Linked DNA regions of Homo sapiens: region 1 is linked to region 2. Evidence: fine-mapped expression QTL. A gene starts in region 2. The other region holds a variant in brackets. All regions are shown on one strand. Distances are from middle to middle.

Region 1 (12,070 bases), 59 kb before region 2:
CAGAATCACAGGCTTTATAAAATCCTGGCATCTCAACTGAACCCATGGAGTCAGCACTGGAATCCCTGAGCTCAGGGACCTCAGAGACCATCTTGTTGAACTTCACATGGTACAGCTGGGCAAGTGGGCCCAGAGAATGTGTGCACCTCATTGTAGGTACACAGCACAAGGTCCCAGTAAACTGGGACGAGCTGTGATGGGGACCTGGAGGCAGGGGTACAGGTGCCATGCCCCAGCCAGGCCCTGCCTGGGGTGGGGATCCTGGGTCACAGAATCAGAGCCACCACAGTGTGGCTGTATGCAGGGGTCTGAGTAGATGACTGCCTTGGAGTCATGGACCAAAGGTAGTGGGTGCCACTCTGCTTGCTGGCTGTGCTAGAATTCCAAAAGGAAGTACATACAGTACAAGCCTGGAGGAACAGCAGGCTCATACTTAAATTTCAATGCTCCAGGCCAGGCGCGGTGGCTCACGCCTGTAATCCCAGCACTTTGAGAGGCCGAGGTGGGCGGATCACCTGAGGTCAGGAGTTGTAAACCAGCCTGGCCAACATGGTGAAACCCCATCTCTACTAAAAATACAAAGAAAAAAAAATTAGCCAGGTGCGGTGGTGGGCGCCTATAATCCTACCTATTTGGGAGGCTGAGGCAGGAGAACTGCTTGAACCCGGGAGGTGGAGGTTGCAGTGAGCCAAGATTGTGCCATCGCACTCCAGTCTGGGCTACAGAGCGAGACTGCGTCTCAAAAAAAAAAAAATAAAATTCAATGCTCCATCCTAGGCTAACCCCCAGCGGGCCAAGTCCTAACCCTAAGAAGGTGGGCTGCTGTCCTGTGTTTGTGTCTTAGCTCCAGGGGAGGGTGGGCTCAGTCTGAGGGGAAACTGAGGCTAGGAGGCCAGGATAGGGCTCAGCCTGGGGCCAGGCCAGAAGCTGAGCTGGGGCTGTCTGGGTCTGAGGACCAGGTTCAACCTGCATTTAGGTCCAGACCCTGGCCTGGGTCTGGAATCCCACTGGGGTGGAGGTGTCAAGTCTTTGGTGACTGCCTCACTGGCTCCCTCATGGGAGGCCCAGCACTCTCAGTTCCATCCATCCCAGGTTCTATTGCCCACCTGACTGGTGCTCAGGGAGGCAAGTGTAGGGTTTTCTTGTTCCCATGGTGAGTCTGAGAGAGGAACCCAGAGCCATGAACTGCAGACAATGGGGCTGGTGGGGACCCTGGGGACTGTCAGGGTGAGACTTGCAGTCCAGTTACCCTCTGGGCCCAGAACATGAGCAGGTCAAGAGCTAGGGAGTGTGAGCCAAGCCCAGGGAGGCAGGTGGCTTGCTGAAGCATCTGAGATTAAGGAGCCTGGAGAAGAGAAATCTAGGGGAAAATGGAAGAATATATGCTTTGGTGTCACATGGATAGTGGTTAAGTCCCACTTCTGCCATTGCCAGGCTGTGTGACCTTAGGCAAGTGACTTCACCTCTCTGAGAACTCGCCCATCCAAGCGTGTTATGAGGATCTGCTGAGACCTCATATCGGGGGCACCAGCTTCTTCCAGGACGCTGGGCTCAGGAGCTCTCTCTCCTCTCCCTTCCCTTGGTGCACTGTTTGCCCTGGGCAGCAGGGGCTCTGCCCGATTTATCCCTGATGCCTGCTCACTATCTCCCTCCCCAGTCCAGCCCAGCAAACTACCTCTGACCCAGCTTGGGATGCCAGCTCACTTGCCTTTGCCAGGCAGGACTCCTCATTGGCTATAATTGGGCCTAAAATAGACTTCCCCTTGCCGTTTCCTGCAACCTGGCCTGTGGCTTAAGGTCTGTGAGGACACAGACTTGGTGTTTGGCAGGCATGCAGAAGATGTAAAGGGCTCACAGAGGTCATCCAGGTCTATGGAGGGACAGACACTCGCCTGGCATCACACAGTGCCGAGAGCCTGGGCTGGAGCTTGAGTTCAAGCCCTGGGGTCCCCCATGCCCTCCCCAGGCCCTGCCCAGAAGGTTTAAGGTAAGGCCTTAGCCAGACTTGCTCCCTCCAAGCCCTCTGGACCAGCCCAGTGCTGAGGCTGGTTTGAGGTGTGTGACGGGGCCCCTGGAGGCCAGCTCGTCTAGCCTTCTGCCTCCCCTGGCTTTAAGGGTCATTTCCTGGCTTTTCTGACCACAGGAAACCTTCCTGCCTGGGCTCTCCTCCCCAGCTACCCCCAGCCTCAATGTTGCCTTTCTGTGTGACCTCAGGTAAGTTCCTGACCCTCTCTGTGCCTCATCTTTTCCATTAGATAGATGGTCTAGCTAAACCCTGACCCCTGTCCCAAACCCAAGGGACCACCTGGAGAACTCCCTTGAAGAGGAGATGGCCTCTGGCTTTGACTCTCCTCACTCATCTGGGATCTGGATCCCCTTCCCAGGGCTGGTCTAAGGAACATTAGTCCAGCCTCATGAGTGACTACATGTGACTCTGGGTGCTCAGGCTGTCTCTCCTGTCCTCCAGCCACACCAGGCCAGCCCTCCTCTTCCATGAGATACAGAGACCTGAGCAGACAGATTCCAGGTTCTATCAATTAGTGGTTAGGTGACCTTGAGGAAGGCATCTAACCTCTCTGAACCTCAGTTTCCTCATCTGAAAAGGAGGGTAATAATGGTATCAACCTCCCAGGACCATTGTGAGGATTCGAGATGATCCATGCTCCTGGCTTGCAGCAAACACTAAGTGGAAGCTGGGTTTATTGTTTCGTGGCATTCAAGACCTAGAGTTGGTTCTCACCTGAATTCTCCAGATTTAATTCAACAAATATTTACTGAGCATCTACTGTGTGTCACGCACTGTGGCAGGCCTGGGGATGGAACAAAGAACAAAATCCCACGCTCACGGAGCTCCCAATCTAGGCGCCCCTGCCTTTTCCTCTTTCCCCATCCACCTGGGCCTGCACCAGGCTCCTCTACCCCTCCTTGCCTTGGTTTGAGCTGTTCTTTTTTTTTTTTTGAGACAGAGTCTCCCTCTGTCACCCAGGATGGGGTGCTGTGTAACCTCGGCTCACTGCAACCTTGGCCTCCTGGGTTAAAGCAATTCTCCGCCTCAGCCTCCCAAGTCGCTATGACCACAGGTGCACGCCACCACGCCTGGCTAACTTTTGTATTTTTTGTAGAGATGGGGTTTCTCCATGTTGGCCAGGCTGGCGTTCCCTCTTAACATCAAACCCAAGCCCCACTTTCCCCCACACCAGTGGCTAACCATAGTCATTCCCTTTACAGCAGCAGTTCTCTACCTTGGCTGGTGAAGCTAGATCATGGTGTCAGAAGCCGGGGTGGTGGTTACCCTTGGAGGGCAGACCAGAAGGAGGTCTAAGGGGAGCTTCTGGGGTGATGAGATTTTCTGTTCCTTGACCTGGGTGTGTTCACTTTATGAATACCCATCACGCTGGGTCCTTTTTTATGTCCTTTTTTGTATAAATGTTATACTTCAACTAAAGGTTTCTGAAAAACATATAGACACCTGGGTCCCACCCTCAAAGTTCAGATTTAATTGGCTTGGAATTGGCCTAGGCCCTCATGATCATAATGTGCATCCCAGGCTGAGAACCACTGCTTCAGAGGAGGTAATCCTTCCAGGAGCCTCCCCTGGGCCGGGAGCCTGGGGTCTGATGCTCATTCCAGGGCCTCCCTGCCCACAGCTGATGGGGTCCGGGCTGTCCACAGGCTGGCCAGTGCCCTGGAATGTGGGCCTCTAAGTAACAGTGGGCTGGGCCAAGCCCATTCTTACTGAGGCACTTGAGTCGGGGAAGTGGTGAGGATCTGGTCTTGGGTATCTTGTGCTAAAACTGAAGTCTGCCCAGGGTCCTCCGAGTGGAGGAGGCGGAGGCCCTGAGGCAGCAGAAGCTGGAAAGCAGTGGAACAGCAACTGACTGGCAGTGTGGGAGGCACTGGCGACTCAAGTGGAGAGGCCAGATGTCCTGAGATGCAGCTCTGATGTCTGGGCCACAGTGCCCTGTGACAGCTCCTTGCTGCCAGCTCACATCTTCACTAATAAGCACCCTTCTAGTTCACAAGCAAAATGAATCTCTTTCTTGCAATCCAAAGACCTGTGCACGCCAAGCAGCAGTCCTGTTCGGGAAGGGATCATCAGCCTCATTTCACACGTGAGGAAATGGAGGCTCAGAGGGGATACAACTTGCCCAAAGGCACATAGCTAGTTAGCGGCAAAGTCAAGATCTCAAACAAGGTCTGTCCAGCTTCAAAGCCTGTGTTTCTTCTAATGCTTTGTTTCGTTATATATTCCACATGAATGATGCCTCCTACTCCATAATATATCTGTGCTTATTAATAGAATCCCTTCCTCCCCAGATAGCCCCAGTAAAATGATGCTGCACGGAGACGGTCCATGCCCGTCCTGTGGTGTTGAGGACCCAGCAGACCCCTGAGAGGTGTGCTGCCAGTTTGCAGAGCATGAGCTTGCATGCCCCTTCAGGGGCTGACTCAAAAGTCAGTCATTTAGGCTGGAAACGTTCGTGCGTGTAGCAGAGCTGAGGCACGACATGCCTTCTAGTGATGGCCACCTCTAGTTCTGCAGGTGCACTCTGGTCTGGAGGGCTCTCTGTCCTTGCACAGAATAGTCCCATGTTGCTGGGCCTGTGCGTTCTTGTGTCTGATTTAATGACAGACCTCTTCAGACCAGAAATCAGACAGACTTGGATTCTATCCCTGCTCCAAACACTTCAGAGGGTTGGAGCAGGGCCTTGGCCTTCATCAGGGTTCTCCAGCTGAGGCTTTGCTGGAGAACATTGTTTCCTGGAGGAGCCGTAGACAGGCTCAACAGGGGTCCTGGCTCTTTACCTGGAGCATGTCAGCTTCAGATTCCCAAGCTCCATCCAGGCCCACTGACTCAGAAGCTCTCAATTAATACGTAAATAAGTTACGAATCATGTTTCTGCATTTACATGTCATCTGCAAGGGATTCTACCATGTAACCCTGGTTACAAAGCACTGAACTGGTACAACCCCTTTATTTTCCTGATGAGGAAACTGCAGCCCAGCCACCTGCCCAGGTAACACAGCAAATCGTGGCAACCTCGCCGTCCAGCACTCTTCTGGGTCTCCAAGGCCTCCCTTCTTCCCAAGTGTGTGGACGTCGGAAGGCCCATGTGGCCAGGGAGACTGAGCCCTGAGGTTGCTGACAGGAGGCCACTGTGGCCACCAATGCAGTCATCTGGTGTTTCTATTTATTGACTCTTTAAACTTCATCATCCAAAGAGAGTTAATACATGACTGTTTGGTAGCAAGAGAAACATAATCTAAGACCGCAATGACCCACCCACCCCAAACAAAACCAAAACCAAACAGAACAAAACAAACCCCATCTGAAACCAAACCTTTGGAGTTTTAGCTGAAGAAGCGAGGGGGCTGAGGGTCAGAGTGGCTCTCTGTGGTCCAGGGGGTCAGGTAGAGGCTGCTCTCAAGTGGGAGCCTTCTCTGTTGAAAAGGCTACATTCAGCCCCTCAGCTTTGGGGGGTCCTTCCTGAAGGGGCTTCCCTTGGCAGAAGGGGTGTGGAGACGGATTCAGTGGTCAGAGGGGCTCCTAGGTCTGCCCTCCAAGGTGACCATATGTGCCAGTGCATGAGACACAGGGAAGCAGGGCCAAGGACTGGGGGCGACTGTGAGGAGATCATGGGCCCATTTCTCCTACCTGAGAGAAAGCCCTGTCCAAGGCCCCATCAGTGTTCCCAAATTAGGGAACCACTAAAGGCACCACCAACAAACTGGGAAATGACAAAGCCTGACAGGTCCCCAGATGGCAATCACTGCCCCCTAATAGTCAGCATCTTGATCTAGAGGACTGAGGGCAGCCCCATCAGGCTGGGGCCCTGGAAAGTTTATGTCAACGGGCAATGTTTAGGGCCTTGGACATGCAGTGTGCGTACGTGTGTGTCTGTATGAATGGAATGGGGCTCAGGGGCGCATGGGTCCCTCCAGGAAGGCTTGGTTAGAGTCCCAGGGTGGTCCCCAGGGCAGGAATAGGTTTCTTTTCCTCATGTCATTTCCTCAAATCACCCCCACCCCAGGTGACCAGGTCACTGCATAAATAAGTGCTTGGGAAGGTACACATCTAAAAAGAAACATAAATACTGTACATGGGGAATTCCCCAGCCTTCCTGCTGCCCTCCAGAAAACCCTCCAAATATTGCACATGGCCCTCCCCAGCCCCGTGGGGTCCAGACCCAGCTGTGTCTTTGGTAGAAGCTCCAGGGTCAGAGGTCCTGGTCAGCCCACATGTCCCCCACCC[G/A]ATCATGACTGGAAGCACCGGGGCAGCCAGAGGGTCGGGAGAAGCCATGGCCTGGCTGGCCAGTGGGTGTTCCATCAGGAATGCTTCCGCGAAGACAAGGCAGAGCCCACGCAGGCACATGTGTGCCCCTGGCTGGATACTCCTGGTCAAAGTCTGCGTGTGGGCTAGGGAGAGGCAAGCAGGCTGAAGGCAGGTGGGCGGGCGAGTCCTGGGCCACGGCAGACAGGGTCACACCCTCCACAGGAGGAGGTGGTTTGTGCTGTCGTCTCGACCCACAGTCTCACTGCTGCTGCCGCCCCCACTGCTGAGTCGGAAGTCCTCATAGCCATCACCTCCACTGATAACCAGCATTTTAGGCCTGGCAGGGGCGGGGCCTCGGTGCCAAGGGGAGTCCCGGTGCTCCAGTGATGGCAGCTTCTCGGGGCCTGGGGGCAGAGGGGAGGATCTGTCAGCTTGGGGGCGAATGGAGGCTTCACTGTCCCATCGGGGCCTGAATTCCCACACCCCAGAAGATAGGAAGGAAGATGTGCACACTTCCTATGGGGGAATCCCACTTTCTGTTAGCTAGGAACTTATTTAGAAAGAAATGCCCACTTCTTGGCAGCCAGACTTCTTATGTCCCATCTGTAATCTCTAGTCAGGAGTCACATAATTTCCCAAGGTGACGCCACTTCTGATTTTTTTCTTTTTACAATGTAAGTGCCCTGTAAGATGCCACTTTCTATCTCTCTTGATTACTGCACGCAACGTCCTTGCATTAAATAAGCCTCCTACTTCCAACAGCCCTTTCCCAGGTAGCTTAAGTCTTCTGTGAACCCAGACAACTCCTGACCCGAGGCTTTATTGCTTCCTGATTTCCACAGCCACTTCCTCTTGGGAATATCATTTCTTGTCCTGCCAAAGCAAGACTTTTCTGGTTGTGGCCTCCTGATGTACCTCATTTCCTGCTGTTTCACTTTTTTTTTTGAGACGGAATTTTGCTCTTGTTGCCTGGGCTGGAGTGCAATGGCACATACTCTTGGCTCACTGCAACCTCCGCCTCCCTGGTTCAAGTGATTCTCCTGCTTCAGCCTCCCGAGTAGCTGGGATTACAGGCGCCCGCCACCACACCCAGCTAGTTTTTGTATTTTTAGTAGAGATGGGTTTTCACCATGTTGGCCAGGCTGGTCTCGAACTCCTGACCTCAGGTGATCCACCCCCTTCAACCTCTCAAAGTGCTGGGATTACAGGTGTCAGCCACCACGCCCGGCCATATTTTTATTTTTATTTTTTTGAGACAGGGTATCACTCTGTCACCCAGGCTGGGGTGCAGTGGTGCAATCTCTGCTGACTGCAGCCTCGACTTCCCTGGGCTCAAGTGAGTCTCCCACCTCAGCTCAGCCTCCTGAGCAGCTGGAACCACAGGTGTGTGCCACCACACATGGCTAATTTTTGTATTTTTTGTAGAGATGGTGTCTCACCATGTTGCCCAGGCTGGGTCCTGAACTCCTGGGCTCAAGCGATCCTCCCACCTCATCCTCCCAAACTGCTGGGATTACAGGTGTGAGCCACCGCGCCTGGCACCCGGCTGTTTCACTTTCTAATTATCAGTCCATTTTCTGTGCTAGTGCCATTCTATGTTGTTTTCTGTTGCTATTTCTATTTCCTGCTCTGTGCATCACTTCCTGATTCCACTTCCTGCCCTATATATCATTTCTAGTCCTGTGCTATTTCCTGGTGCATATAGGAAATATATACAACAGGACATATTTTCTATATACATATTCTATTTGTGACATATTCTACCTCTTAGGTTATAGTTCCCTCCCTGTCTCTCATGACATTTCTCTGGATAGAACTTTATATACACACAACACATGCAGGTGCGCACACACACACACACACACACAACTATCCTAGATTTCATTTGGACACTTCCGTGGTGTATTTCCTGTCACATATGCCACCTCCAGCTCTATGTGACACTTTTCCTCCCTCTTGAAAGCTCTTCTGGCAGGATAGTGGGGAGTCCTAAACCAAATGTCCATGATCCCTAGCTTGGGGTATGATGCACTGACCCACCTGTGTCTGGGGGAGGTGGTGGGGTTGGGCAGAGCAGGTTGAAGCCATCTGGCAGCTGGACTGCAGCCAAGAAGCGGACGTGGCCGGTGTGTCCCTGGCCGAGGCCTGTGGGACTGAGTGGTGCCCGTGGGCAGCTGACAGTACCGGGCGAAGTGGGCATGGTGAGGACGACACCAGCACTGGTGCCCACCCACAGCAGCTCCTCACACACCAGCAGCGCTGTGATTCGCAGACAGGCAGCCTTGTGCTGCCGGATGATGGCATCCGAGCCTGGGGTGGGAGACAGACCACAGCTGGGGCTGAATTCTGGCCCTGGCTCAGCCGCCTCTACGATCGGGCAGAAAGGCTCCAAGGAGGGTGCTGTGGTAGTTTGAGGTCAGTACCTGCCAGCATCCTGTGCACGGGAGGAGTGACGTCTACTTCTGCCAGCTGCTCAAAGGTGTCTGGATGGTAGAGACACACGTGGGCACTACCTTTCAATGTCACCCACACACCCAGGCTGGAGTCCACCATGCAAGCCACGCAGCGGCTTGAATCCTGACCCACGTAAAACATGTGCTGGGGAAGGCGGGGGAGAAGATGGGTCATTGGCAGGCCTGCCTCCCTTGGCCCACCCTAGCCTGGAGCTTCACCAGTGTCCATCCCTCACAACTCACACTAGCGTTGGTCCTTGGTCTGATTAACCTTTCGAAGCTTGGTTTCACCAGCACCTCCCAACTTAGTTCTCAGGAATTACAATGGAGGTGCTTTTTCCCCATTAAACTTGAGTGATTTAAGGATCAGAGAACTTCAATGCTTAAAGGGTTCTAAAATCAGTCACTGGCCTCCCCCTGGACAGGTGGGGAAGCTGAAGCCTAGAAGGGAAAGGTCACACAGCAAGTCAGTCACAGAGCTGGGGCCTGAACCCAGGGCTTTGGACTCCTGCCCAGCCAACAATGGAATAAGTGAGGGAAATTAAGGGAACCCGTTGCCCCTGGATACTTCTGACATGTGTGCAAGTGACATGTGCAGCAATAAATGCCAGAGTCTAATGCTAATGGATGTTGACATCAGAAAGGACTCTTGTCCTATCCCCAAAGGACCCTAAAACCTGAGTTGAGAGATAGGGTGGGCAGGAGGATGAATAAGATTCCTAATGTATATGGGACACTTACTGTATTCCTCATCAGCTACAGAAGAAATGAGGATCGAAGGAGGACAGGGACTGGCCAGCGTCACTCTGTGGTCAGAGGAAGGCCCTAGCCCTCTGCTGGATGCTGCTTATGCCCCTACCATGGTCTCCATCTCCCTGTCACACGGACCTAGCTCATCCCATGGCACCAATTCCATTCCCCCACCCCCTGCTACCTCCAGCTGCAGCGTGTCAGGGCTCAGGACAAGGACTCGGTTCTGGCAGCCACACCACAGCCGCCCACCCACAGATACCATCTTGGTGATGGGGCTCCCCTGGGTGCCCAAGGTCACTGATTTGAAGTTCTGGGGGTCCCAGAAATGGCCTGGAGTGGGGTAAAGAAAACAGGAAATTCACTCCAGTTCTAAATTTGAGCCTCGGTCTCCCCTGAAATGAGATGTTAACATTCCCCTTTTATAAGCAAAGAAACCAAGGCCCACAGAGGGCCTGGGAGTTGCCCAAAGCCACATCTCCAGGAGAGAGCCCCAACACCAGTAAGGGGACAGGGGCAGGGTGTGGGGGAGGGCAGATACTCACCTGCTTCCCTTTGGTAGACCACAAGCTCTCCATTGGCCAGAGACACAAACACCTGGTTATTCAGATACCTGGGTAGGGAAAAGAGGAAGCAGTAAGGGAGTTCAGGCAGCCAAAGTGGGTCACCCAGGACCAGGGGAACCACAGATAGAATGGGTATGGCTCCCGAGAGGCCACCTCTTCCCACCCCTTGTTCTCCAGGTGGGGGTTGCCTGAGGCTAAGAAAAGGGGGTGACTTGCCCGAGCTCACACAGTGTGTAAGAGGCACAGCTAGCCTAGGGCCAGGCCTCTGGCTTCCAGCCTCCACACAGAGGAGGGACAGTAGAGCAGGGGGACCAGATGAACAGAAGGAGGCCTGCACGTGTGGCTGAGAAGAGTCTAGATAGGAAGGGCCACCCTGGGGCCTTACAAGATGCAGGTCACAGAGGCCGCATGCTGGAGCTTCATGCTGTTCCTGCGGTCACGGATGCTGTCGGAGGACTGGTACACGTGGACACTGTGGATCGGGGTATGCACCTGGGACAAATGCTTGGGGCACACCAGCCCCTGGAGTCATCCCTCCACCTCTTTGCCCCTAGCACCACGTCTTCAATGCTGGGTGCCTGCCCAAGGTACTGAGGTCCCACAGCCTCCCTGGGATTGTCAGACCCACTGACATCCCTGGTCAGCAGTACCCCTGAGGTGTGACCCAAAGCCCTCCTGCCTTGGCTCCAGGGGACCACATGATTTCCAGAGCAGGGAGCTCAGAGTTCTGGCACTGTGTCCCTAGTCCCTCCCCTGTCCCTACCAGCCATCCTCAGTGCCCAGCCACACGGAGCTCTGGTAGGCCTCAGGGTCGACACTCAGCAGGTCCTCAAGGCTGCCCCGGGTGAAGGAGCCGTGGCTGGAGCGGCGAAGGGCTCTCCCATCCATTGGGCTGGTGCCGCAGGGACCACCAGGCCCAAAGGAGCCAGACAGTGGCAGGAAGCCTGGCTCCTGCTCCTCCTCTGAGCTGGTGGTCTCTGCCGTGGCCTCCTTGGAACTCGGGGTCTCCTCATCTGAGGGAGACAAAGGTCTCTGTCTCCATTTCCCTCTGCCAGGCCTGGGACCTGATATCTTTCTAGGCCATGCATCCCTCCTGGCCATGCCCCTCCGGAAGGCCTCTCAAAGCTGTTCTTCCCCGGCCTGCTCCGGTCTGCTGCCCTGCTGCCCTGCTCACCGACAGCTCAGCACTACAGAATCCTTGATCTTGCCTGGCCCCTCAGACCCAGTGGCCACACCGTGGGTCCCCACTCCACCAGCACCCCATCTTCCTTAGCTGAGTGCTCCAGGGTCTTCATGATCCCGCCTGACTGTCCCACTGTCCTCTGGATCCTTGGTGTCACATCCCCTGCCCTCATTGCTCTGTGTGCTAACATCCTGAGGTCTGACGCCATGCCTTTGCCCTACACTGGTCCCTCCTCTCCCCCTCCTCTGGGCAGTCCACCCTGCCTGCCAAGGCCAAGTTGGAGGAGATGGCCAAAGCTCACTGCCAAAGCTGGAGGAGATGGTGGACCGGCTGGCCTGGCTCTGCAGCGTCCCCGAGGGGCTGGGCGAAGACTCATCGTCAGAGTCACTGTCAAAGGGCACCAGCTCTGGGCGGGGGTCACCCTCGCCGAGGCCCGGCGTCATCTCCAAGCCCGAGCCTGCAATGGAGATGTGAAGGCAGGGCTGCGGCCCCGGCTCCGCGAGCGTCGCGGCTTCCTCGTCTGCAGCGGCCTCGACGTCCAGCTCCGGCCCGGCGGGCTCCGGTGCCGTCTCTGGAGGACTCCTCAGCGACGGAGGAGGCTCCCTGCGAGAAGACGGAGTGAGGATGACAGCAGCTACGAGCCAGACGGGGCCCCGGTGGTGGACACGCCCACCGACCCCGCCCACACTCGCCGGGCCCCGCCCACAACCACGCCGGGGCGGCCTGAGAGTGTGCTGGGACAGGGGTTGGTTCTCCCAGGCCCGCGGTGCCGCCCACCCCGCCGCCCAGGCCTCACCGGTGGCAGCGAGGCTGCAGCCCGGGCACCGCCCCGATGCAGAGGATG
Region 2 (12,070 bases):
GCTGTGGGCTACAGTTGTGGCATGTGTCAAACGGGTATCAGGGACCTGAGGGCAGAAGGTGGGACTGCAAGACTCTGCACTTTGAGGCTGGGGCGGGGGAAGCTCTCCCTCACAGGAAGAGTTGTTGACCAACCAGGCTACAGTGGGCCTCAGTGGAGGTAACAAGAGTGTGGGAGGGGCGGGGCAGGGAGGCCTGACAGCTCTGCCTCCTCACCTCCCGGCACACAGACAGGCATTCCTGGAATAAATGACCCATGAGCTACTGTTACTCCCTGTTCTCCTGGGTTCATGCAGCTATTGCAGACAGCTGCCTTTCTCTCCCCTCCAGCCACACCGCTGGCTCCTCCCATTTCACTTGACACCCCCTGCAGGCTGACTCCCTCCTTCTGAGCCTCACAGACCAGGCAGTCTAACCTCCCACTGTACAGATGGGAAAACTGAGAGACAAAGATGACTCTGTCCAGGTCTGAGTGAGTCAAAGGCTGAGCCAGGCCTGGCCCCAGGCCTCCCACTTCCCGGCAATGGGGGCAACACCACACAGAGCACGAATGTGGACCTGAGGGTGAAGGACTCCCTACAGCCTGGGGGGCGGGGGGCATCCCCTTAGTCCCCAGGGACTGCCAGAAGCAAAGAATGACAGCTCCTCTCGTCTCTGCTTATTCTGGAGTCCATACCACGCCATCTCCACCCACGGCCCAGGGAGCATGACTGGAGCCTCAGGCTTGAAACAAGGGAACATTGTCTCCTCAACAGAGGCCACCAGGAGGGGGTGGACAGCTGCTCCCCATATTCTGGGAGCCAGAAGGAAGGGGACAGCAGGAGGGGTTCAAGCTAGCAGATGGGAGAACTTCCAGGCTTTATGAGGGTGTGGGAAATTGGAGGATGATGGATGTTCTCAGAGGCTACTGCAGTCCACCAGGTTATACTGAGGCCCCCGAGGACCCAGCCCTGTGTTCACAAGCCAAGCCTGGTGGCTGAGAAGCAGCTGGGCAGTGCAGCCTCCATTTTTCTTCTTTCCTGCTACCAGAGAGGAAATGATCACACCACCCATTCACCACAAGAGACAGCCTGCCAGGCAGAGGCCATTACCCCCATTTTATGGAAGGGGGAAGTGAGGCACAGAGCAGGGATATGATGGATCCTAGGCCACACAGGGATCAGAAGAGCAAGGCTCACACCCTGCTCTTCTAATGACAGACTCACCAGTTACCTCCCCCTAAGGGGACATCAAGCTGGGCCTGGAAAAGTGAGAGGCCTGGAGTGGGCAAAAGCTTGGAGATCAGAGAAGGCCTCTGTTCGTGGCAGGGAGAAGCCCATGTTATGGCAGATCTGTCCCGCCTCAGAGCTCCAGAAAGGGGTGGGGGGTAGAGGAGAATGTGAAGGGAGGTGGGGCAGGAGAAGTTCTGTAAACTCCCACCTCCTCTCTGGGTCTCAAAGCCTTCTCTTAGAAGCACCCCCAACCCACCTTCAGTCTCCCTGAGTCCCTTGGTTTACTCCTGTCCTCTCCCCCATTTGAGCCTTCAAGGCTCCCAGAAAAGATATATGGGAAAGGAGGCTGGGGAGGAGACCCCTGACAAGAACTGGACCTGCTGTCTTCCTCCCCTCCCCCACCTTCAGAACTGGCACTGGAGTTCAGGGGCACCGGAGCTGCCCTCACTGGGACTCAGAAGGAAGGACAGGTTCAAAACGCCCCGCTCCCCACTCCCTGCCTGCTCTCTCTGCAGCCTCCATGAGAAACCCCAGAGCCAGGACCAGGGGTAACTGGAGACAAGGAGAGAGAAACAAAGAGAAAGGGAGTTCAGAGGGGCCATGAGAGTGCTGGGAAAGGGAGTGACTGAATCAGTCCAGGGTTTATAATTTCCAGGCTTCTCACACAGTCAGGGAGCGCAGTGGGAGCGCAGGCCACAGTTGAAGTAACCACTGGCCATCGCTGAGCTCAGCTCAGAATCCACAGCCTGGAATCTAGCTCCCAACCCAGATGCCAGGGCATATGCCATCTGGATCCCATCTGAATCCACAGCCTAAACTCCAGGGATAGCTGAAGCCAGAAGGTAGAAGGAGGGGTCTCAGGGAGAGTGAGCCCCCAGGGCTGGGGGTCTGGCAGAAACGGGGTGCATCTCAGAGTCACCAAGAAGGGGGTAGAGTGGGGAAAAGATGCAAGCAGACAGGATGGGGGAACAAGAACCGACCCCCCAGACCCATAGAGGCAGCCCTGAATATGGGGCCCAGAACCACTCCTGACCTCTCTAAAGGGCCCTGGCTGCCCAGCCTCTGCAGCCCCCTCCCTGCCTCTATCCTCCCCTAGAAGCCCCCATCTAGAAGCTTTTTTCATCTGAGGAGGCTCTGGCAGAACTCAGGCCCCAAGAGTCCCCAACTCAAAACCGCAGGCTCCCCCAAATCTGCACAGTACCAGCTGGATGGAAACATAGGCACTAGTTTGTCCACCTATCTCCCCTGATTGGGGAGATTAAGTCACAGAGAAAGGCCAATGTCACACAGCAAGAACAGAACTGCAGTTAGAACCCTGAGCCCCCTCTGCTCCTCCATAAAGTAAAGCCTTGTACCTCCCCAATTCTCCCAGGCCCAGGAACACATCTATATTCTGACCTGTCACAGGAAAGCCACACGAAGAAGGGCAAACCCATGTCAACTGTGGCCCCTGAGCCAAACATCCTATCAAGGGTCTGGCCAACAGAGTAGCAAGCCTCAGAGAAAGGACTGAGCCTGCGCTGGGTGCCATCACACTCATCCCTCCAACAAAGAACCACACAGGGATTTCCAAAACCAGTCCCTGAGAAACATCCAAAGGACAAGATAAGAATCCTTTGTAATTACCACCCAGAACACCTGGAGCAGACAAGACCCTTTGCCATTAGCACCAGCAGAAAACTGAAGCTTCTACAGGGCCTGAGTAGACAGGAGCCCTGTGTCATTAACAACTCTTAAAACTGCACAGGCACTTCCAGGACCAGAAAAGCACCCTTGGCACCTGGGCACCTGACCAGTGAATACAATGCAAAAGGCTCCAACCGAAGTCGGTGCCCATGGCCCTTCTTTGGCCCCAATCTGAAGGCCCCTACAAAGGACTCACCACCTGTGGCTTGCTGCAGCACTTGCTGGCAGGGGTAGGCTCATCTGCAGGCCGAGCTGCCTCAGGGGGCTTGGCCTCAGCAGAGGGCGGTGCAGCCAGAGGCAAGCAGGGCATGTCCACTGGCACTGGGGCAGGGACCTCACCGGAGTGCAGGTTCAGCATGTACTGCTTGGTGACGTCCTCGAGCGATGGTGCCTGCAACGTGGGATGGGCTCGGGTAGGGAAGCCTATGGGTTCTGGCACAGCCACAGGGGGACCAACAGAAGTTGGTGGCTCAGGCACCACAATAGGCATAAATGTGGCGGGCACACTGGCATGGCGAACGTGTCTGGAGGAGGGCCGGGCCCGAGACAGGCTGCCAGTCTGGTCCTGACTGCCCTCGTCTCTCCGAAGCTCCTGGTGACTACTCCGAGCTGGGCGCTTCTTGGAGCCTCGGCGGATTAGCCTCGGGGACAGAATGTCAGCCAGCTTGGGGTCAAGGTGAAAGTTTCGGTGGGCAGTGGCAGGGGGAGGCAGAGCCTCAGGTAGGGCCCTTTCAGACTGTGCCCGGCTCCTGGTGGCACCAGGTTCTTCTGGCTCTGCCCGCTGCTCTACAAGGATGGGCTCGCTGCTGGATGGAGGCAGCATGGGCTCAACTTCTCGGATGGGCTCCCCTCCAGGGCCCTCGAATCCAGGCCCAGCCAGCTCCCCACGGCGGCTGGGGTCACTCAGGGATTTCTTCTTGGGGGCTTTGCCAGCAATCCTGTCGTCCACCACACGCCCCAGGGTGCCAGGCCCCTGAACTATGCTCTGAATAACCTCCTGATATCCCTTGCTCTCTTCACTGCCCACAGACCAGTCACTGTGACCACTGGTCAAGCCCTCATCCATGGCTGAGGTGGCAGGGAGCCCTGTCTTGGGGCTCAGTGAGCCCAGGAGGTTGCTGTCCACAGAGAACCCAGTAGGCTCTTCAGAGGTGGCAGCCCGGTGGCGCTGAGGAATTGGGTCACTCAGGGACCTGTAGGCCTCCCCTGCCTCCCCATTGCTCAATTCGCTCCCACCAGAACCTGAAGGTGGGACTTTGCGTCGTCGGCGGAGGGCACCTGGTGTGGGAGGGGTCTCAGGCGACACCAGGGCCCACCCGCCCAGACTGTCCTCAGTCCCAGGGCCATGGTGGTTCGTCTGGGCCGAGGATGAGGAAAGAGGTCGCCACATCCCTGTGGTACCCAGGCCGCAAAATGCTGCAACAGGAGGCTCAGGGTCTGCCCCAATGCCTTCATCTGTCAGACTGGACTCAGGGCCTGAGAGCTCCTCCTGGGACCGCTGCCCTCGGGTCACATCCCCTGCCCAGTCAGGGCTTCCAGGGGGGGCATCGCTTCCATCATCTTGTTGGGCACCCATGCGCTGGATCTTCTCAAAAACCTGGCGGGCCTCCTGCACATATTGGTCCTGGACGATGAGGGGCAGCGGATCCTCCTCGGCACCAGGGCCTGTGAGCAGGAGCTCGGAGGAGCTGGACTTCAGAGCACTGGTGCGGGGCAGGCGGCGGGCCATGGGCTTCTCAGAGCAGGTGAATGACTTTGCTCTCCGCAGAGTGGCTGTCAAGTCCTTGAGTGTGGGGCGCGTGCCAGGTGATGCTGGGGCTGGGATGGGTATGGGTTCAAGTTGCCCCACAGGGCCACCTGCGGATGGTGAGTCTCTGCCATCTAGGGGGTTGCTTCCACGGTCCCCGGAGCTCCCACCAGGTTTTCGGACCCTCAGCTCTGAAAGGTCTGAGCGCAGGAAACTGAGAAGCGTCAGGGTCTCTGAGGCGATATCTGGATTTGACAGGGACTTCCGCTGTCGACTCTTTTCAGGCTCAAATCCTCCATCCCTCAATGCCCTAGAGGTGCCTCCAGGTCCTTTGGCACGGGTTCGAGCCTGGGACCGCAGGAGCCCTTCCCCAGCTCCAAAGCTAGGGGAGCGGTACACGCCCCAGCCCCCAGAACCCCTACTAGACCATAGGTCGTCGTCCTTGAGGGTCTCCGTGCTGGAATAACGGCTGCTACCGCGGGAGCCTGCGGGGCTGGCCAGGTACGAGGGAAAGCTCACCTTGGCCACACGGAAAGCTCCTCCCACAGAGTCAGACATAGGCCGAAGTCCCTCCTGGGGACCTGGGACGCAGGGCGGAGAGCCACTACCCCACTCCCGGAGTCCTTCTTCTCTAGGGGCTCTTGGAGATGTTGGGGGCTCAGGGCTCCCAGAAACCCCTGCTGAGTTCATGCTGCTTAGATTTAACCCATCACTGTCAGGCCTGCAGTCCTGATCCAATAGGGAGCTTCCAGGCCTGAGCCCGGGCCTCCCTCCCCAGCGGTGGCCGCCCTCACCGTCTCGGTCGTCGTCACTGCCCGAGGAGTGGCCGCCGTGGTAGGCCGGACTCTGGGCTCCAGGCAGCTGCGGCGGGCCCTCCTCTTCCTCCTCGCTGGAGCTGGCAGCACGACTGCGGCTGACAGGATAGGAGGCGGCGATGGAGGAGGAGGAGCAGGAGGCCCGGGCCCCGGCCTGCGGTTGGGAGAAGATATGCCAAGAATGTAAACCATCCGCTGGACGCTGCGCCCGCTCCTGTTGCTGCTGCGGCCGGCGCAGCCTCCCTTCGGTCTCCGGCCCGGTCAGGGGCCGCGCCGAACGCAGACCCGCCAGGGGGAAGCATGTCCGAGGGGGTGGCGTCGGTGGCTGCCGCGACTCCCGAGCCGGAGGCTCCCACGCGGCACCGTCGGGGCTGGGCGTTCCTGGGGATTCAGAGTCGGCGCTGGGCCTCCTGGAGCCAGGACCGCCGAAGAGCTTGCGCATCTCGGTGACGCTGGGCCAGGCTCCTCGCGCTGGGCCCTCGGCCGCTTCTTCCGCGGCCGCGGGTAAGACGCCTCCGTCTCGGGTCCCAGCGGAGCCGTCGTCCAGACGCGGCGCGTCGAAGCGCCGGGAGAGCTGGCGAACCGACGGCGAGAGGCTGCGGAGCGGGCGCGGCTGCGCGGGGGCGGCCAGGGGCCCAGACGCCAGCTTGGACACGCGCCGAGAGGGCTGGCCCCGGGCAGCCGTGGTCGGCCGGCACGAGGCGCGTCGCCTCAAGCCGGGGGTGTCCGTGTCCTCCTCCCTCAGCCCGGGGCCGCCGCTCCAGCGCTCCAGCAGCTTGAACGAGACGCTGCGGTAAAGCTGGGGCCGGGGTGCCCCGTCCGCCATAGTGGCGTAACTCACTCCGGGGGGGCTGGCCTCGGGCAGCCGCGGCCAACCCCCCCTGCGCCCCCACTCCCTAGGAGCGCAGCGGCCCACGCCGAAAGCAGCGCACGGGAGTGTGGGAAGAGGACGCAGAGACCGGAGCAGAGGTTTCTCTGCCGCGGCTCAAGTTTCTGTGGCCACCGGCCGCAACGTCTCCATCCCGGGCGGCCCCTCCCGCCTCAGCGCCGACCCCCAGGCCCAGCCCCCGCCGCGGCTGGAGCGACCAGGGGCACCGCGGCACCGCCTGGGCGGGATCCCAGCGCTTGGTTCCTCGACTCTGCGTCCGCCTGCCCAACGCCCTTGGCTGCTCGCTCCTGGCACCCTTTTGTTGCAAATAAACTTTGCGGCAGAGGCAAGGGGGCGGGGGGCGGGGCCTCGCGCCCAAAAGAGGGGGTGGGCTCCGGGCGTGCGCGAGCCTGGGAACCGCGTGGTGGGAGGGAATCAGGGAGGAGCCGAAGAAGAAAAAGCCTGCTGGAGGACTTGCAGACTGAGGCGACCCTCTGGCCCTCCAGAGAGGTCCCTCGGGAGCCCAGCAGGCCGAGCTGCCCCCAGGGAGTCGCTGAGACACACACAACCGCTGAGCGTGCTCAGCTCCGCAGACTCGCAGCCAGGGCGCCGCGTCCACCGCGGGCCACCAGCCTCCGCGCGGAAACACCTCCTGCCCAGGGGCTCCAACATGGCAACCTCGGACTCACAAACTCTCGTACACACTGACACTCAGGTGCACGCAGACGCACACTCTCTGGGCCGGGAAAGGGGTGGGACTCGGCGCCAGGGAGAGCCCGGGGAGCCGCGGGCTAACTGAAGGGTCCGTCGCGCCCTACTCCCCGCCCAGGCCACGCCTCCTCCCCTTCCCTCCCCCTCCCCGCCCGCCCTCTGCGGCGAATTTAGCTGTAGCCACGCCCTTGTCCCCCCATCTCGCTCCCAAGCGCCCCGCCCATCCCACCTCCCAGCCGCCTGTCCGGCTCCGACCGGCCCCCAACCCGCCCAGCGTTGCTCCAGAAGTCCCACCCTTCACGACCGCGCCCCCACCCCTACTTTTCCAGCTGCCACGCCTTCCACCTGCCCCTGCAGTCTGGCGGCTCTTCTCCTGGACTCTCCGCCTGGATCCCCGAGCCTTTTCTTCTTGCTCTGGAGTACGCGGCTCTTGCGCCCCCTCGCGGCGTGATTTTCCCAACGCACGGAGTCCTGGACGGATAAAGCAGCACCCATCCCCCAAAAACGGAGAGTTGTGAAAACTTCCTTTCAGTCGTTACCTAATCCCCTTAGTCTTTTTCAGACCTTCGCAAAGCGCACTGCCCCTTCTTAGGCCTTATACACAAAAGGAGCTTCGACGGGAACGCCCTCGACTTCCCACTGCCAAACCTATACTCTTACCCGCAGCTGCTTCACCTTCTTGGCAGGAAAAGTGTCGGTTGTTTCTCTGGCTTCACGCTGATCCCTCGCTTGAGCTCCCCTCCCGCCCCTGCCTCCGTCTGAGTCTCACATTGTTCTCGGTATTGGGGCATCATCCCCTTCCGCATTCCCACCTGCCTCTAGATCCCATTCATCCTCCCGGCCCAACTAACGAATGAACGAACGAATGAAAATGTATGGAGTACCTATAATGTATGGGCAATATTATTTAACTTATTTTTTAAAATCCACAAACCACCCTTGGGGACAAATATTATTACCCCTTCTCTGTGGACCGTGAAGGAGAAGTAACTTTGACCACTATGCAAGTCAGGAAATAGCAGCTCCTGCTAAAATTCAGATTTCAGGGGCTTCAAACACCATGCTCCTCCAGCCAGCTCTGAGATGCACCCCCAAATCCTGATGAAGAAGGAGGTTCTCGTTCCTTTGAGCCCCCAGTCTCCTCCTTCTCCTCCTTGGGCCTGAGCTCACTCTCCTCAGGAACAGAGGATAACCTGGTCTGACCCATGCCCCTCCAGCGCTGCCCAGCCTTCTTCAGGCCTGGTCAAACTGCCCTGGCCCCTCCAACCCCCAGTAGCAAGGCCTCGGGGACACATAGTTAGGTCAGCAGTCTGTGCATTACCCAGCCAACCCCACTGCCACCAGGTCCAGCCAAGGAGATGTAGCTGGGCCAGACTAGGCTAGGAGACGGGGTTCAGAGGAGAGGGGCAGGCAGGAGGATAGGAAAGGATGGTAGACACCCAGGGATTGCCTGACTACCGAATGAGAGAGAGAGGACTCAGCCGGGACTCCAGAACCTGCTTGCTACTCATATACCCCACAGGATGAGGAGGTCACTCTCCACTCTCTGGGCAGCCTCTTGAGTTGTGGAATATCTCTGTAGCAAGAAAGTGCTTCCTCTCTGTGTTGAGACCAGCATCCAGGGAGTCCCTCACCTCAACCTCATCTCAGCTCTGCCTCAAGGGGGCCAAGGAGTAAATCTCTCCCTTTTCTCTAGGAAATTGATAAAAGAGAGCCCTGCTGGCCTGTGCCTCTCTGTTCGGCCTTACTCTGTGACCTTGGGTAAATCCCTGCACTTGCTGGTGTCTGAAAAGTGAGGAGTGGGGTGTCTGAAAAGTGAGGAGTGGTTCAGGTTCCCCAAGAGTGCCCTCTCTGGCTCTGGCATTTGATGTCAGACTCTCACCTCCTTTAGTATTTTCTTTCTGCTCTTTGGGGCAAGTTTTGGTGTGTGCTGTGGGGTGAGTTGTGGAGGGGTGAGTTGGGGAGGGGTGAGTTGTGGAGGGGTGAGTTGTGGAGGGGTGGGTTGTGGAGGGGTGGGGGACAGGACTCTCATCCCAGGAGTCACTCTCTCCCCCCATAATGATGACTCTTACTATCTGAAATTTGTACTTTTCCACCTCCCTGTCAGTTCTGGGACAGAAACCCTTATCCCATATCACAGATGGGCAAGTGGATAGAGAGGAGTGGAGGTTCAGGTCATGGGCTCCCAGAGTCCTGTGGCTTGGCCTTGAGGTGAGCTGGCTGGGGCCTTTGGCTCAGGAATCCCCTTGGTGGGGAGGGGGGTGTTTAAGGATCTAGACTGGGTCTCTGTCCAAAGGGAAGCTCACCCAATCTGAGAGTGGCTTGATTGCTTCCAGTGCTTCAGGAACCCTCCCACCCCCAGCTCCTTATGATCCAGTATAAGACAAAGTTATCTTCCATGAACAGAAGAGATCTGGAATTTTAATGGTGCTTGGTAATTATGTACAGCAATTTTTAGCCCCAAGAAGACTTATTTGATAGGGGGCTGGGAGCACTGGGCACCAGAGTGGAGAGAAACCCTACGCTGGGGTTTTGAAGCCAGGCTCACCTTCCGCAGCTCACCCCCTTTTCTCTGGGCCCCAGGCTCCTCACCTATGAAAGGGTAATGAAAACAATAGCCCATCTACCCAGTGAGTCATGGTGATCTAGTGAGGTGAGGACCGTGGAATCCCTTGGGGAAATCAAGATGGGAAGGTTTTGAAGGTCACAGGTCATGGCCAGTGATGGGCTTTGGTGGGCTTCGGGTACAGATAAGTCCCCAGCTCATGATATTTCAACTTAATGATTTTTTGACTTTATGATGATGCAAAAGCTATGTACATCCAGTAGAAACCATACTTTGAGCACACATATAATCATTCTGTTTTTCACTTTCAGTATTCAATAAATTACATGAGATATTCAGCATTTTATTATAAAATAGGCTTTGTGTTAGATGATTTTTGTCCAACTCTAGGCTATGGAAGTGTTCTGGGCCTGTTTAAGGTGGGTTAGGCTAAGCTCTGATGTTTGGTAGGCTAGGTGTATTAAATGTCTTTTTGACTTATAATATTTTCAGTGGGTTTATTGGGATGTAACCTCATCGTAAGTCGAGGAGCAACTGTACTTAAGAGGGAGAGAAATGATGAGTGCGGGGACAAGAAGCAATGAGCTCCATGAAGGAGCTGTCTTAGGGGGAAATCTGACTCTTCTGACTCCATTGCAAAGCCAAATAGAAACTATCTGAGATTGCCCCCTTTCCTATATAATTAGACCTTAAGCACACAGGATTAAATTCTTTATAATATTTTGATAATGATACATTCTCATCAGTTATTTAATTGGCTTTCGCCAAAAAACAAAACAATACAACTAGGACCTTTAAAATAATTCACATCTCATTATACAGTTCTTCTGCTCCCATCCTCCTGCTGTCCCACCACACAGAAAATCAGAAAATCATCATCTCAAATCCTGTGTTCAGCATTCTCTTGCTTTCCTTCAAACATATTCCTTCAAACTATATATTCCTTCAAACTATATCTTTTCATTTTAGTTGTTCTTAACTTTATAAAAAAAAAAAAGGCATCCTGCTGGACGTGGTGGCTCACGCCTGTAATCCCAACACTTTGGGAGGCTGAGGCGGGTGGATTGCTTGAGGCCAGGAGTTCAAGACCAGCCTGGCCAACATGGTGAAACCCAGCCTCTGTTAAAAATACAAAAATTAGCCAGGCGTGGTGGTGCATGCCTATAATCCCAGCTTCTTGGGAGGCTGAGGCAGGAGAATCACTTGAACCCAGGAGGTGGAGGTTGCAGTGAGCCAAGATCACACCACTGCACTCCAGCCTGGGCAACAGAGCAAGACTGTCTCAAAAAAAAAAAAAAAAAAGGAGGGGGGTTTCTTGCTTTACAAAATTTGTTGGGACTTCTTTTTTCTTAATATTAAGAAAAGATTTACCCATATTGTTGCATGCCTCTATACTCCATTCTGGCCATGTGGACTATTTCAGTGTGTGACTATATCACAGTGTGTTGATCCAGTGTCTTGCTGATGCACATTTGGGTGTTTCCAGGTGTTTGCTGAGCATTGTGCATGACTCCAGGTACACATGGACAGAAGTGCTTGGGCATAGGGCAGGCAATTGATCAACATTGGGAAGCATTGTCAAGCTGGGATCTAATTTCTCGTCTATGTTTTTTAATCATCTGTGTTTCCTTTTTTTTTTTTTTTTTTTTTTTTGAGACGGAGTTTCTCTCTTATTGCCCAGGCTGGAGTGCAATGGTGTGATCTTGGCTCATTGCAATCTCTGCCTCCCAGGTTCAAGCAATTCTCCTGCCTCAGCCTCCCAAGTAGCTGGGATTACAGGTGCATGCCACCACGCCCAGCTAATTTTTATATTTTAGTAGACACAAGGTTTCACCATGTTGGTCAGGCTGGTCTCAAACTCCTGACATTGTGATCCGCCCATCTCAGCCTCCCAAAATGCTAGGATTACAGGCATGAGCCACCACGCCTGGCCTTGTGTTTCCTTTCATATGAAGTGCTTATTTGTGCCTCTTGCTCATTTTTCTATTGGGTTATAGTATGTTTAGTACTTTATGAAATTTCTGCTCTAACTTTTCTATTCCTCGGTATCCCTGGTGGCTTAGGAAGGTCTAGTATTTTACAGGTAAGGAAACAGAGGCTCAGAGGAGTGAAGGTGCTTGGTCAAAGTCACAGACTCTGTTGCAGCCCTTCTGCACTGAGCTAATGCCTTCTGAGGCCTTCTGAGGCTCTAGGCCTCACTCAGATACATTTTCTGCCCCTCAACTAGGTCAGGGCCCCTCTGGTATTTAGCATTTCTTGGCCATGGACCATTCCAGGAGCTCATCATCTCCCTAGTGATACCTTCCTTGCCTGGGTCCTCTTTATGATCTGAGCTCTCTTCCCCAGCTGTAATGATCCAGGTCTGTATATGTTTCATTATTACCTGTCTCCTCCATCAGACTAGGGGCTCCCTGAGGGCCCAGCATGATGCTTGGCATATAGGAGGTGCCCAATAAGTATTGTTTACT

Alleles and levels. Positions count from the first base shown, and alleles are read on the strand shown. Sizes are in standard deviations (SD) of each study's normalised expression.
As copies of A replace G in region 1, the expression in thyroid of the gene that starts at base 5,561 in region 2 goes up (moderate effect, 0.58 SD a copy in GTEx).

What was found.
Region 1: its variant is fine-mapped to the expression of ARHGEF17-AS1 in thyroid (GTEx, PIP 0.93).

What each region holds. Positions count from the first base shown.
Region 1 is chr11:73,362,192-73,374,261 of GRCh38, reverse strand. It overlaps ARHGEF17 (Rho guanine nucleotide exchange factor 17), which reads right to left. Exons shown (of 21, transcript NM_014786.4): 13 at 12,023-12,070; 14 at 11,528-11,829; 15 at 10,807-11,056; 16 at 10,429-10,515; 17 at 10,023-10,090; 18 at 9,662-9,810; 19 at 8,698-8,872; 20 at 8,315-8,584; 21 at 4,874-6,678. The coding sequence ends at 6,482. Among named protein-coding and RNA genes, the nearest start is that of RELT, 8.2 kb to the left of the region's middle. RefSeq lists enhancers at 7,747-7,916, 11,764-12,058, 11,708-12,070. The variant G/A (reference allele first, on the strand shown) is at 6,254.
Region 2 is chr11:73,302,852-73,314,921 of GRCh38, reverse strand. ARHGEF17-AS1 (ARHGEF17 antisense RNA 1) reads left to right here and starts at 5,561. Exons shown (of 3, transcript NR_147696.1): 1 at 5,561-6,250; 2 at 6,358-7,040; 3 at 7,366-7,411. It overlaps ARHGEF17 (Rho guanine nucleotide exchange factor 17), which reads right to left and starts at 6,646. Exons shown (of 21, transcript NM_014786.4): 1 at 3,092-6,646. The coding sequence starts at 6,283. RefSeq lists enhancers at 393-572, 4,831-5,651, 5,657-6,534 and silencers at 5,955-6,174, 6,405-6,734, 7,135-7,274.